Regions from separate parts of the Homo sapiens genome. Here region 2 is linked to region 1. The links come from fine-mapping of genetic effects on gene expression. Tissue or cell type: whole blood. Region 1 holds a variant in brackets; the other region holds the start of a gene. All regions are shown on one strand. Distances are from middle to middle.

Region 1 (8,516 bases):
TGAGGCATGTTAAAATTTGAAAACCTATGTTCTAAATGGTTAGGTATTTGGCCATTCAGGGAAAGTAATATATTAACAGTGTGTGAATATTATTACTAAACTTGGGAGAATATGACAGTGGCATTTTTTCCTTCTTGTGTTTTATAGGATCTGATTTAATCTGTAACGACTATAATGAGCCATTATCATTCTGGGACATATCTTGAGTACTTTGTAATCCATAAACTCACAATTATCATTATGGTGTCCAATTTTCTTTTTAAAATATAGTAGCATATCTTTTTATTTTTAATTTTCTTTTTATTTTCCTTCCTTCCCTCCCTCCCTCCTTTCTTTCCTTCCGTCCTTCCTTCCTTCTTTTTTCTTTTCTTTTCTTTTTTTTTCTTTTCTTTCTTTTTTCTCAGTCTTGTCTGTTGCCCAAGCTAGAGTGCAGTGGTGCAGTCTCAGCTCACTGCAACCTCTGCTTTCTGGGGTCAAGCAATCCTCCCACCTCAGCCTCCCTGGTACCTGGGACTACTGGTATGCGCAGTCATGCCTGGCTAATTTTTGAATTTTTTTTGCGGAAAGGAGACTTCACCATTTTGCCCAGGCTGGTGTTGAACTCCTGGGCTCAAGTGATTCTCCCACCTTGGCATTCCAAAGTGCTGGGGTTACAGGCATGAGGCACCACACCCAGCCTTACAATAGAATATCTAAAACATTTAAGGGATTTTTTTCTCTTTGGATAATTAATGATAGTTTCTATTTATGTTACAAGATAGTTTCTACTTATGTTACAATAATTATTCTATGGATAGAATTCTGTTACAATAAGTATCTCTATGGATAAAGCTACATTGATATGTTGTTGCTGGCCCATGTGAGAGAGGCATTTCCTAGGTAATGCTTGCTGCCACTCACAATCTCAAAGCATGTGCTTCAGTTGAAACAAACAAATTACATATCATGGATCTTTAAATAAGTCTTGACTGTTCAAAACAGTGAAGGTGAAATTCTTAGTTGCTAAGGTCTATTATGTTTCTACTTATTTGTTTACAATACTTATTTAAATAAAAAGAGTACAAGTGTTTTAGTTATTGCAATTGAATAATAATAGTTATCAAAGTATTTATGAAGTGTTTACTTATTTACATAGACTTATGCAGATGGATGCTATTAAGACCAAATGCCTACACTTAAGGAGCTTAAGGTCAATTAAGAAAGTAATATTTATGTACATGAAAAACAATACAAAACATCATATAGTGGAGGACTAAATTTTTGGGGCTAGACTAAAATGGCATAGGAGAAGCATGGGCTTATTGTACATTGTTGTTGCTAGAGAAGGTTTTATATAAAATGTAAACTTGAGCTGAGCCTTGTTATTAATAGGATTTGCATTAGAAGAGAGAGTAGAGAAGGATGTTTTCACCATCCATTTACACATTAATTCGTTCACAGGATATTTATTGAACACTTTGCCAAACGCTATGATACACACTGGGGAGACAAGCATTAAACAAAATTTCGTCAAGAGTTTATATACAAAGAAGAAGTAGAGTTGGCTATGAATGAGAGGCTTAACCTTAACAGTAGAAACAGGGACAGCTTTCTCCTTCTTTTTTTGAGATGAAGTCTAGCTCTGTCACCCAGGCTGGAGTGCAGTGGCTTGATCTTTGGCTCACTGCAACCTCCACCTCCCATTCAAGGGATTCTTCTGCCTCAGCCTCCTGAGTAACTGGGACTACAGGCATGTGCCACCACGCCCAGCTAATTTTTGTATTTTTTTTTAGTAGAGACGGGGTTTCACCATGTTGACCAGGCTGGTCTTGAACTCCTGAGCTTGTGATTTGCCTGCCTTGGCCTCCCAAAGCGCTGGGATTACAGGCGTGAGCCACCACACCTGGTCGACAGCTTTCTTAAGGAAGTGACATTTTGAAGTGTTGAAAATTATACACATTGATGTACGTTCAAAGGAGAGTGAGGAAATGGATCTGCCTGGAACAGGGATTCAAAATGTCCTTGATATTTATGCTTTTAAAATGTCTTCTAGGAGTTGTATAGGGCATCCTGTTAGATACAAGTCTCTTCCAAAGAGTTGAGAAACAAGAGTGGTGAGCATAAAATGTGGCTCAAACAATTGTTATAATTCCCTTTGTTAAACGGCCATATACTGAGTGTGATTAGTTGTGTGTTTCATGTCAGGCAGGATCAAGTATTTCTTAAGTTAAATTAGACACTTTGGATTGGATGCCATCAAGAGGGTTGGGTATCATTCTGGACTCTGACTCAGGACTTTTATATTTACTGCAAGATTTATGTCACCAGATGGCACCATTTAACTAAATTTATGTGCTTTAGATGAGTATGAGGCTGGTTGTTTCTAAATGAAGGATGCTATTATTTGTGCTGTAGCTAATATAGGAAAAAAATCTTTTATTTTGAGTGCATATGAGATTTCCCTATATAGTGAGATAGTGAAACCCCAAAGCTATTGTTGGGAGTGTGAAAGGATCTGGTGATTTCTGTTAAGTACATAATAAGTGAAAATTTGGTGATGATCACTGTAACTAATATGTGGTAGCTGGCAAAAAAGCAATAGGCTTTCTCATCTAGGTTTTCCTATAGCAAGCAAACTAGTATTATTAATATTATAGCCTTGAATTTTACTTTTTGTTGTTGAACTACTTTCAGGGAATTTATATATATATATATAGAGAGAGAGAGAGAGAGAATATAAAAAAAATTCTAAAAGATTATTTTAGGAATAAGCCCTTTCAAGATGTCCTGAAATAGCGTAGTAATATCTAAAAAAATTTTTCAATATAGAATATGTTTTACTGAACTGTGGAACTAATCAAGTTAATAGAATGTGATATAGACATTATTTCTTAGTATAAACATCCATCCCAAGGAAATGAGTATTTATTACTTGGTCAAAAACTTCTTAATATTTTCTACCTTTAAGCAGAATTAATCACTTCTTCCCTTATGTTTCTATGGTATTTGTTTATATTTCTGGCACAGCACTTATTATATTGTACTATTGTTTATTGATTACATGTTGCTCTCCCTCAGCAGACTGTGAGCTTCTTGAATGCAGGGACCAGTTCTAATTCAGCCAAATCTGGCATGGAATGAACAGTTCTTCATTAAATTTCTTTCATTTGAAAAAATACATTTGATCTCCCACTATCAAAGAGACACCACATTAGGCTCTGGGGTTTTAGTGATGAGAGAGATGTACACCTTGTTTTCATGGAGCTCATTGTCTACTACATTAAACAAGTAAGATATTAAATAAGTATAATTGTGATGAGTCCTTTGAAGTAAATGGTTATTTGGATTAAACAGTTAAAATCATTAGAAGTTTCTTGAGCTGATCAAATTCATATTATTATACTATATTAAAAAATGTTTAGATACTACGCAAAAGTAATTGTGATTTTTACAATAATTTTGACTGGGCACAAACTCTCTTGAGCAGAATGTGGGGGCAAGCAGGAACTGCGGCAGAAAGGAGAGGAGGAGTCATGGGGGACAATGTGGGCAGATGGGGAGGGGTGTAACCTGAAAGCCCTGCTTGCTTTCTCAGCTGGGAAACTTATAACTTGGGGCTAGGTCTGAGTCCCATGTGCAGGCTGCCTGGAGACAAACTCAGTGGTTTTAGATGGCACAGTGGGAGTGAGACAGGCCTCACCAACTGGGTAAAAGCTGGGTGGGGCCTATCGCTACTGGCTTTCCCTCACTTTCCTGGCAACAGAGGCAGCCATAATCCCCTTTGGAATTTAACCCGAGAACCACCCCTCCCACACCCCCACAGTGGCTGCAGCAAGCCCCACCCAAGGGGAGTCTGAGCTCAGATCTGCCTAACCCTGCCCTGACTTGACAGTATTTCTCTATACCCAGTAGTGGATCATGAAAGACATAAACTTTTGGGAGCTTTATGACCC[C/T]GCCCATTACTTGAGAAACCTGAACACTTATCTTGGTCAACTTAGGGCAAGCTTATATCCCCCCTCTTCTATCACAGCTGGTGCTCTCTTGAAAGCACCACCTTCTGCCTGTAGTCTGACCAACTCAGGACGTTGCAGCAACTCAATGACAGAATAACGCTGCTCCAAGGAAGAGGAAAACAACAGCTAATTCCGTGTGCCCTGCAACATCCTGGCTAACCAGTGGTCCTAAATCTGTCCACGTGACAGTGTCACTGCTAGCATAACCAGCATTTGAGAAAGCCAGCACACTAAACATATCTACAACCAAGGACTCTCACAGAGTCTATTTCACGCCCCTGCCACCTCCAACAGGGCAGGCGCTGGTATCCATGGCTGGGAGACCTGAAGGTGGATCGCATCACAGGACTGTTTGTAGACATTCCCCAGCACCAGCTCGGAGCCTGGTAGCCGTACTCGGTGGCTAGACTCAGAAGAGCAATACCAGTCACTGCAGTCTGGCTTGCAGCAAGCCTCATCCCTAGGGGAAGGGGCAGTGTACCACATCAAGGGACCACCCCATGGGACAAAAGAATCTAAATAGCAGCCCTTGAGTTCCAGATTTTTCCACTGAAATAGTCTACCCAAATGAGAAGGAATCAGAAAATATGACAAGATGAGGTTTTACAACACCCCTAAGAGACCACACTAGCTTCATAGCAATTGATTCAAACCAATAAAAAAAAATCTCTGAATTGCCAGATAAAGAATTTAGAAGGTTGATAATTAAGTTACTCAAGGAGATACCAGAGAAAGGGGAAAACCAATTTAAACAAATTTAAAAAACAATACAGGATATGGATGAAAAATGCTACAGAGAAATAGATATTGTAAAGAAAAAACAATCACAACTTCTGGAAGTGAAAGACACGCTTAGAGAAATACAAAATGCACCAGAAAGTTTCAACAATGATGTTGAATGAGTAGGAAAAAGAATGTCAGAGCTTGAAGACAAGGCTTTCGAAGTAACCTAATCCAAAAAAGACAAAGAAAAAAAAATGAACAAAGCCTCCAAGAAATTTGTGATTATGTTAACCAAACCCAAGAATAATTGGTGTTCCTGAGGAAGAAGATAAATCTAAAAGTTTGGGAAACATAATTGAGGAAACCTTGCCTGGCCTCACCAGAGAACTAAACATCCAAATACAAGAAGCTCAAAAAACACCTGGTAAATTCATCACAAAAAGATCATTACCCAGTCACATAGTTGTCATCAGGTTATATAAAGTCAAGAACAAAGGAAAGAATCTCAAGAGCTGTGAGGCGAAAGCATCAGGTAACCTATAAAGGAAAACCTATCAGATTAACAGCAGATTTCTCAGCAGAAACCCTATAAGCCAGAAGTGAATTGGGGTCTATCCTTAGCCTCCTCAAACACAGTATATTTCAGCCAAGAATTTTGTATCCAGCAAAACTGAGCTTCATAAATGAAGGAGAGATAAGGTCATCTTTCAGACAAACAAATGTTGAGTGAATTCATCACTACCAAGTCAGCACCACAAGAAATGCTAAAACGAGATCTAAATCCTGAAACAAAACCTCGAAATACACCAAAATAGAACCTCGTTAAAGTGTAAATCTCACAGGGCCTATTAAACACTAACAAAAAGAAAAAACCCAAGATGTTCAGGCAACAGCTAGCACGATGAATAAAACAGTACCTCACATCTCAGTACTTATGTTGAATGTAAATGACCTAAATGCTCACTTAAAAAATACAGAATGGCAGCATGGATAAAAATCCACCCACCAAGTATCTGCTCTCTTCAAGAGATTCACTTAACGCATAAGAACTCACTTAAGGTAATGGGGTGGAAAAAGATACCCCATGAAAATGGAAACCAAAAGTGAGCAGGAGTAGCTATTCTTATATCAGACAAAACAGACTTTAAAACAACAACAGTTGAAAAAGACAAAGGGAGACATTATGTAATGATAAAAAGATCCATCCAACAAGAAAATATCATAATCCTAAATATATATGCACCCAACACTGGAGCTCCCAAATTTATAAAATAATTATTACTAGACCTAAGAAATGAGATAGATGGCAACACAATAATAGTGGGGGACTTCAATGCTTCACTGACAGCACTAGAGAGGTCATCAAGACAGAAAGTCAACAAGGAAACAATGGATTTAAACTATACCCAGAACAAATGGACTTAACAAATATTTACAGAACATTCTACCCCAAAACCGCAGAATATACATTCTACTCATCAGCACATGGAACATTCTCCAAGATAGACCATAGGATAGGCCACAAAACAAGTCTCAATATTAATTTAAGAAAATCAAAATAATATCAAGTACCCTCTCAGACCACAGTGAAATAAAATTGGAAATTAACTCCAAAAGGAACCCTCAAAACTATACAAATACTTGGAAATTCAATAATCTGCCCCTGAATGATCTTTAGGTCAACAATGAAATCAAGATGGAAATTAAAAAATTCTTTGAACTGAACAATAGTAGTGACACAGCTTGTCAAAACCTCTGGGACACAGCAAAAGCAGTGCTATGAGGAAAGTTCATAGCATTAAATGCTTACATCAAAAAGTCTGAAAGAGCATAAATAGGCAATCTAAAGTCACACCTGAAGGAACTAGAGAAACAAAGAAAAACCAACCCAAACCTAACAGAAAAAATAAGTAACAAAGATCAGAGCAGAACCAAATGAAATCAAAACAAAAAAATACAAAAGAGAAATGAAACAAAACCTGGTTATTTGAAAGATAAACAAAATTGATAGACTGTGAGACTAACCAAGAAAGGAAGAGAGAAGATCCAAATGAGCTCAATTAGAAACGAAATGGGAGCTATTACAACTGATACCACGGAAATACAAAAGATCATTCAAGACTGTTCTGAACACCATTATGTGGACAAACTAGAAAATGTAGAGGAGATGGATAAATTCCAAGAAATATACAACCCTTCTAGATTAAATCAGGAATAAATAGAAACTCTGAACAGACCAATAACAAGCAGCGAAATTGAAAGAGTAATTAAAAAGTTACCAACAAAAAAAAGTCCAGGACCAGATGGCCTCACAGCTGAATTCTATCAGACATTCAAAGAATTGGTACCAGTCCTATTGACAGTATTCCAAAAGATAGAGAAAGACGGAATCCTCCCTAAATCATTCTGGGATTTACCAAAACCCAGAAAGGACATAACAAAAAAAGAAAACTACAGACCAATATCCCTGATGAACATAGATGCAAAAATCCTCCACAAAATACTAGCTAACAATATCTAAGAGCATATCAAATGGATCATACACCATAATCAAGTGGTTTTCATACCAGGATGCAGGGATGGTTTAACATCTGCAAGTCAATAAATGTGATACAGGTTGGGTGTGGAGGCTCACGCCTGTAATCCCAGCACTTTGAGAGGCTGAGAGGGTGGATCATGAGGTCAGGAGTTCAAGATCAGCCTGGCCAACATGGCAAAACCCTGTCACTACAAAAAACATATACAAAAAAATTAGCCGGGCATTGTGGTGCACATCTGTAGTCCCAGCTACTCCAGAGGCTGAGGCAGGAGAATAGCTTGAACCTGGGAGGCAGAGGTTGCAGTGAGCCAAGATCATGCCACTGCACTCCAGCCTGGGTGACAGAGTGAGACTCCATCTTAGAAAAAAAAAAAAAACTGTGATATATCACATAAACAGAATTAAAAACAAAAATCACATGATCATCTCAATAGATGGAGAAAAAGCATCTGACAAAATCCAGCACTCATTTATGATTAAAACTCTCAGCAAAATTAGCACAGAAGGGACATACCTTAAGGTAATAAAAACTGTGTATGACAAATCAACAGCAAACATTATACTGAATGGGGAAAAGTTGAAAGCACTCCCCTTGAGAATTGAAACAAGACAAGGATGCCCATTTCCACCACTTCTAGTCAACATAGTTTTGGAAGTCCTACTTAGAGCAATCAGACAAGTGAAAAAAGAAAGGGCATCCAAATTGGAATTAAAAAGTTAGGTAGGGCTCATATAGACCAAAGGAGCAGAACAGAGAACCCAGAAATAAAGCCAAATACTTAAAGTCAACTGATCTTTGACAAAGCGAACAACAACATAAGGTGGGGAAAGGACACCCTATTCAACAAATGGTTCTGGGATAATCGGCAAGCCACATGTAGAAGAATGAAACTGGATCCTCATCTCTCATCGTATATAAAAATCCACTCAAGATGGATCAAAGACTTCAATCTAAGACCTGAAACCATAAAAATTCTAGGAGATAACATTGGAAAAACACTTCTAGACATTGGCTTAGGCAAAGACCTCATGACCAAGAACCCAAAAGCAAATGCAACAAAAACAAAGATAAATAGATGGAACTTAATTAAACTAAAAAGCTTCTGCATAGCAAAAGAAATAATCAGCAGAGTAAACAGACAACCCACAGAGTGGGAGAAAATCTTTGCAGTCTATACATTCGACAAAGGACTAATATCCAAAATCTACAGGGAATGAAAACAAATCAGCAAGAAGAAAACAAGTAATCCCATCAAAAGGTG
Region 2 (5,000 bases), 220 kb before region 1:
AGCCAGGAGATACACCAAAGTCTGTGCATTTAACCTTACACCATGCTATCCCTACCCTCTTGCCTTCCCCTTCAATGTCAACCTAGAATTCTCTAAAGTTTAAGTGTCACTTATATGTAAACCATTTTGAAGGGTTCCTATGGGATAAGTGGAACAGGCCATTGCTGACTTGATATGATCGTGTTAACCAAGGCTTTTTCAGTGCACTGTATGTGCAAGGCATCATGCTAAACATGTGCATCTTCTTTTAATCTTCACAGTAGGCCTGAGAGAGCAGTGCAATTATTTTCTCTCTAACAAATGAGCAAACTGAAGCACAGGGAGGTTGAGTAATTGGTCTAAGGTCTTATTAGAAATTGACATTTCTAACAGCATTTGGATCTTGGCCAAGAGCTCTAAGATTTAGTCTCTGAGCCATACAAGATTTAGATGAATTGGGAGCCATAACAAGACCCTGCCTTAAAATTTCTCCCCCACTTGCCTGCCCCACAACCTGAAGCAAGGATCCTGTGACCCTCTCTAGCATTTAGGCATTGCTATTTGTTTCCAGGGGACGAGTGATACTGGGAACAGCATGTATTTAGTTCCTTCAAAGTCCTATGCCAGATGATACAAGGCACCCAGAGGTGAGCAAGACCCAGTGCCTGCCCTCCAGAGCTAGAGAGGGGCAGGAAGGGGATAACCAAGGCAGGTGCAATCAACAATAAAAGTGAAGTACCAAAAGCATCTGAGGTCACGCTACTCCCCTGCCTAAAATCATTCGCCAACAGCCATCACCAACAGGACACAGCCTGCTTCCCTCAGCAAGGCAGGTACAGCCACTCCTCCAACATCTGCCCACCTACCTCCTTAGCTTCATCTCTGCCTCATTGTCCCAAATCCTGTGCAATAGCCGTGACATATGACAGGCATCTCCATGTCTCTGCCTGCCTCTCTGTGCCCAGTCTTCTGTCACCCCTTCAATCTGACCTAATTTGTAGCCCTCCTTCAAGACCTACCTTGGTCACATTTGTATTTTTTATTGTCCCCCTCCTTCAGCGTAGTGACTCTACAACACTTTGTCAACCTATTATAACACTTACCCTAAAATGAAATTATTTACAAATTTGTTTCTTCAAAGGCAAGACCAGTGGCTTATTCCTCTTTTGCATGTGGCATGCTCACCCAGCACAGGGACACACCAGGCTCTCAAAGGCTGAAGGAAGCCAGAATACACATCTCTGCACAGTGCCAGGACTCTTGGGCCAGGCTAGCAGCCTGCACTGGGCACTAACTGAAGCCCTTGGGGATAAGTATTTGTAAGTTTGGGAGAAGGAAGACCTTTGGAAGAACCAAAGGCAGACCTGGGCCACCCTCAGTTAAATGGACAACACTAGTCCAGGAAATGATAAGGAAAAAGGCTTTAAGGTTCATCTCCTTCAGAGGTTTGCCTGGGCTGGCCCCATCATGGGTAACTTGTAAAAAATAGGTCGTGATACAATTTTTAAATTATTTTATTTATTTTTTTGAGACAGAGTCTTGCTCTGTCACCCAGGATGGGGTGCAGTGGTGCGATCTTGGCTCACGGCAGCCTCCACCTCTCGGGTTAAAGCGATTCTCCTGCCTCAGCTTCCTAAGTAGTTGGGACTACGGGCGCTCGCCACCACACCCAGCTAATTTTTCTTTTTTCTTTTCTAATTAGAACAGAGTTTTGCTATGTTGGCCGGGCTGGTCCCGAACTCCTGACCTCGGGTTATCCACCTGCCTCGGCCTCCCATAATGCTGGGATTACAGGTGTGAGCCACCGCGCCCGACCACAATATTGTATTTACTGTATTGCATTGTCTGCCTCCCTGCCACACAGCGTCTTCCAGGAGCTTACCAGTCCTCTGTGCATACCCCAGTAAGTAGCTCAGGCAGTGCATGACGCCCTCACCTTTCTCTAGGTATTATTGTATTTTAAAGCATCACTTCATTTAGTCCTCTCAACAACTTTTTTCCCCCCTTCTTCTATTTCACATGTGAGGAAATTGACGTCCCGAGGGTTAAAGCAAGTTACCCCATGACCGGGCTCCATACCCTCCGCGCCCCTTTCCCTGCGCGGTGGCTGTCCCTTCTCGGAGTGCAGAGGCTCCTAGTGCTCCACACTCTCGGGCTCCAAGGCCCCCTAACGCGCCGTGATAAAAATAATAATAACAATAACAACAGTGCTGCTTTATTTGCACAGAAAACAGGTTGTTTCGGGGCAAGGTACACTTGAGAAGGAGGCTAGGAACCGGAGAGAAGCAGCAGGCGGGGGCGGAGGGCGAAGGGAGGGAAGGGGAGAGGGCAGGGGCTGGCAGGCGCTGTGTGCCGGGCGAGGAGGCCGGGGCGGGCCGGGGCGGGGAGCGGGCGAAGCGCCATTGGCCCGAGCACCCGGGACCGGCCCCACCGCACCGCCCGCCGGGGGCGGGGGTAGCGGGGAGGGACTCGCGCACGCCGCTCTGCGTTGACAGTGCCGGGCGACACCCGGGCCGTGCCGCCAGCGTCCGTCGGGAGAGTGAAGGCTCGCAACGCCTTGCCCGGGGGAAGGTAACGCGCCGCGCCCGGGGCTGCGCGGTTTGCACCGCCAGGCCGAGGGCTGGGGGCCAGAAGACAAGAGAGACGGCGAGGCGCGCTCCCTGCCCGGCAGCGACTCGGAGGTGCGCACTCGGGTTCCAGTCTCTACTTGGCCCACTCGCTGTGTTACCTCGGGCAACTTTGTTTCCCTCTCTTGGTCTCTGCTTCCTCCTCTGTTAAGTGAGGGAGGTGGTGTAGAATGTTGTTCCTTAGTCTAACCAGTTCTAAAATGGGAACTGCGTTTTGGCACGGGGAAAGCTCCTTTCCTCAGTTTCCCACCTACTCCAGAGCCACCTCCGCTGCCCAGGCGGCCAGGAAGCTGGGATGCCCGGGTAGGCGAGGGTTCTGCTGAGCTATCGCGTTTTCTAGGGCTTTCAGGGACTGACCTGGGCTTGGGGCTGGGTGCTGGGGAGACCTGGCTGCAGAGTAACTGCCCCCAGATTGCTCAGGTGCAGAAAGGTAGGAGCGTCAGCACCTGTTTACAGGTGGGGTGTTGGGAAGGGCCGGCCAGGGGATGATGATTTCTCCTTTGAAAATAAGACGTGTTTTGGAATTCTCTTCCATACCCACACCTCGTCCCACGGCGAGCTATAAACTACACGAGTGGGCTTTATCATCCTTTGAAGTGGAAAAGCGACTGTTTTTAGCGTCTAAGACACAGGGCTCCACCAGCATATAGGAAGTGGGTCTCTCTTTCTCTGCACCCATCCTGCCGCGTCTTCCCTTTCTTTCCTCCTCTCTTTATAAATCCCCTTTGACCTTGAGGGGCTCCACTTCCTGCCTTAATGAAAAGTTCTTCTTTTCATTTAGTGCTGGTTTGTGACCAGCAGCCTCCAGGGCTTTGGGCGCAGGGTTGAGATAGAAGCCTAGATAAGAACAGGCTATGAATCACCCTGTCAGCCCCCTGAGCCACACAGCCCGGCAGGGATGTGCAGAGGAAGCCCGGTGGGGCTTCAGACAGATAGACCCTGGAAGGTGGGGTGGATGCAAACTGCCATCCAGCTTCCCGTCCCCTTGTTGGCAGCCATTCCCCACCAGGATGGTGACCCCTGCTGTCTGCTGGATGGAGCAGCCAGATAGAGTAGGATGATTGAAAGGAGCTGAGGACTTGGCTGGATTTCTATGGAAGGTCTCCAGCATTTCCCTTCCCTCACTTTCCTCCACCCCTGAAGTTCTGCCCCTTCTCACCCTTAGTGTGGTATCCAGGTGAAATCAGATTGCAGAACCCATCAAGAGCAGCTAGGAAGGAGAAGAGGTGTGGGGACGGCAGCAGGGCAATGTTGACTGCTGTTTAGTGGGCACTTACTATGGGCCAGACACTTCTTTGTATGTAATATATCCTTAATTCTCACAAAGCCACATGAGGGGTGATGTACTATACCCTATTTTATAGGTGAGAAACAGGCTCAGAAAGATTGCTTCCTTTAGTCACTTAGCTAGGAAGTAGCATAGCTGGAATTCAAATCCAATCTCTGATTCTAAAACCTGTGTTCTTTACACTGTCTTTGTGCTCCTTAAGTAAGAGCAAGCTGGAATAAGGAGAGCAAAAATGTCTAACATTGTGTTCTCACCAGGTGTCAGGCACTATGCAAAACATCTTAGAGCTATTATGTCATTTATGGTGCAGGAGTTTCCGTTATTCTGGAGGTAATCTGTGACTGCCTTAGCCTCTCAGCAGCAGTACTGTTCTAGAAGGCCTACCCTAATCCTGCCCAGCTGCTAGTGCGTGGGTGGGGCAGGGCCCTGTTTGCTTTATCCTAGAGGTGGTTTGGGGTCTAATGAAAGATTGATTGTCCACATCTGACCCGTTAGCCCTAACCGTTGGCTGGTGAATGATTCCACTGTCCCCTAAGAGGCCTTTTTCAGGTTTTGCTCAATAAACATTTGTGGAATGAATGAATTAGCACCTTGTGCAGAGTGGTCTGCTGCCTTGTAGAAATGTGAGGCAGCCTAGGGGAAGCCCAGGTTCCACCATCTTCAAAACCCAGATGCTAGTCTAGGTGTTTCTCCTCTTTGGGCAAGGGAGGTAGGGTGAACTGTGCCTGTATAGGCTTCCAGAGCTCCCTGGAAATATGTTTGCTTGTCACCTGTTTTACAAAGAATTTTTAAACATACAGTAGATGAAGAAAAATGTGGCTTTTTTTTTTTTTAAATTAAGAGGAAAACTTACTTGGTATTAATGAGGTTGTCACTCTCTCAAAAGTTGGGGGGATAAGATTATAATGTTTGTCTTAGGGCTTACCAAACTTTTCCATAGAAGATCCTGCAATGGAAAAGAAGACCAACACATGCTCCTGTGCTTATGCAATTTTTTTCATTTGATTTCATAATATATGGACTTTGATTTAAAAATATAAAGTTTTTTCTTCAAAATATCTGAATAAAACTGGTGTCCTGGCAGATTGTTATATATTCTTAGGGGC

Evidence for each region. PIP is the estimated chance that this variant, and not a neighbour inherited with it, causes the effect.
Region 2: it holds the start of SYTL2, and the variant in region 1 is fine-mapped to the expression of SYTL2 in whole blood (INTERVAL, PIP above 0.99).

The regions. Positions count from the first base shown.
Region 1 is chr11:85,584,831-85,593,346 of GRCh38, reverse strand. All of the region lies in intron 3 of DLG2 (discs large MAGUK scaffold protein 2), which reads left to right. Among named protein-coding and RNA genes, the nearest start is that of DLG2, 38 kb to the left of the region's middle. The variant C/T (reference allele first, on the strand shown) is at 3,933.
Region 2 is chr11:85,808,614-85,813,613 of GRCh38, reverse strand. It overlaps SYTL2 (synaptotagmin like 2), which reads left to right and starts at 2,473. Exons shown (of 20, transcript NM_206927.4): 1 at 2,473-2,660. RefSeq lists a silencer at 2,335-2,514.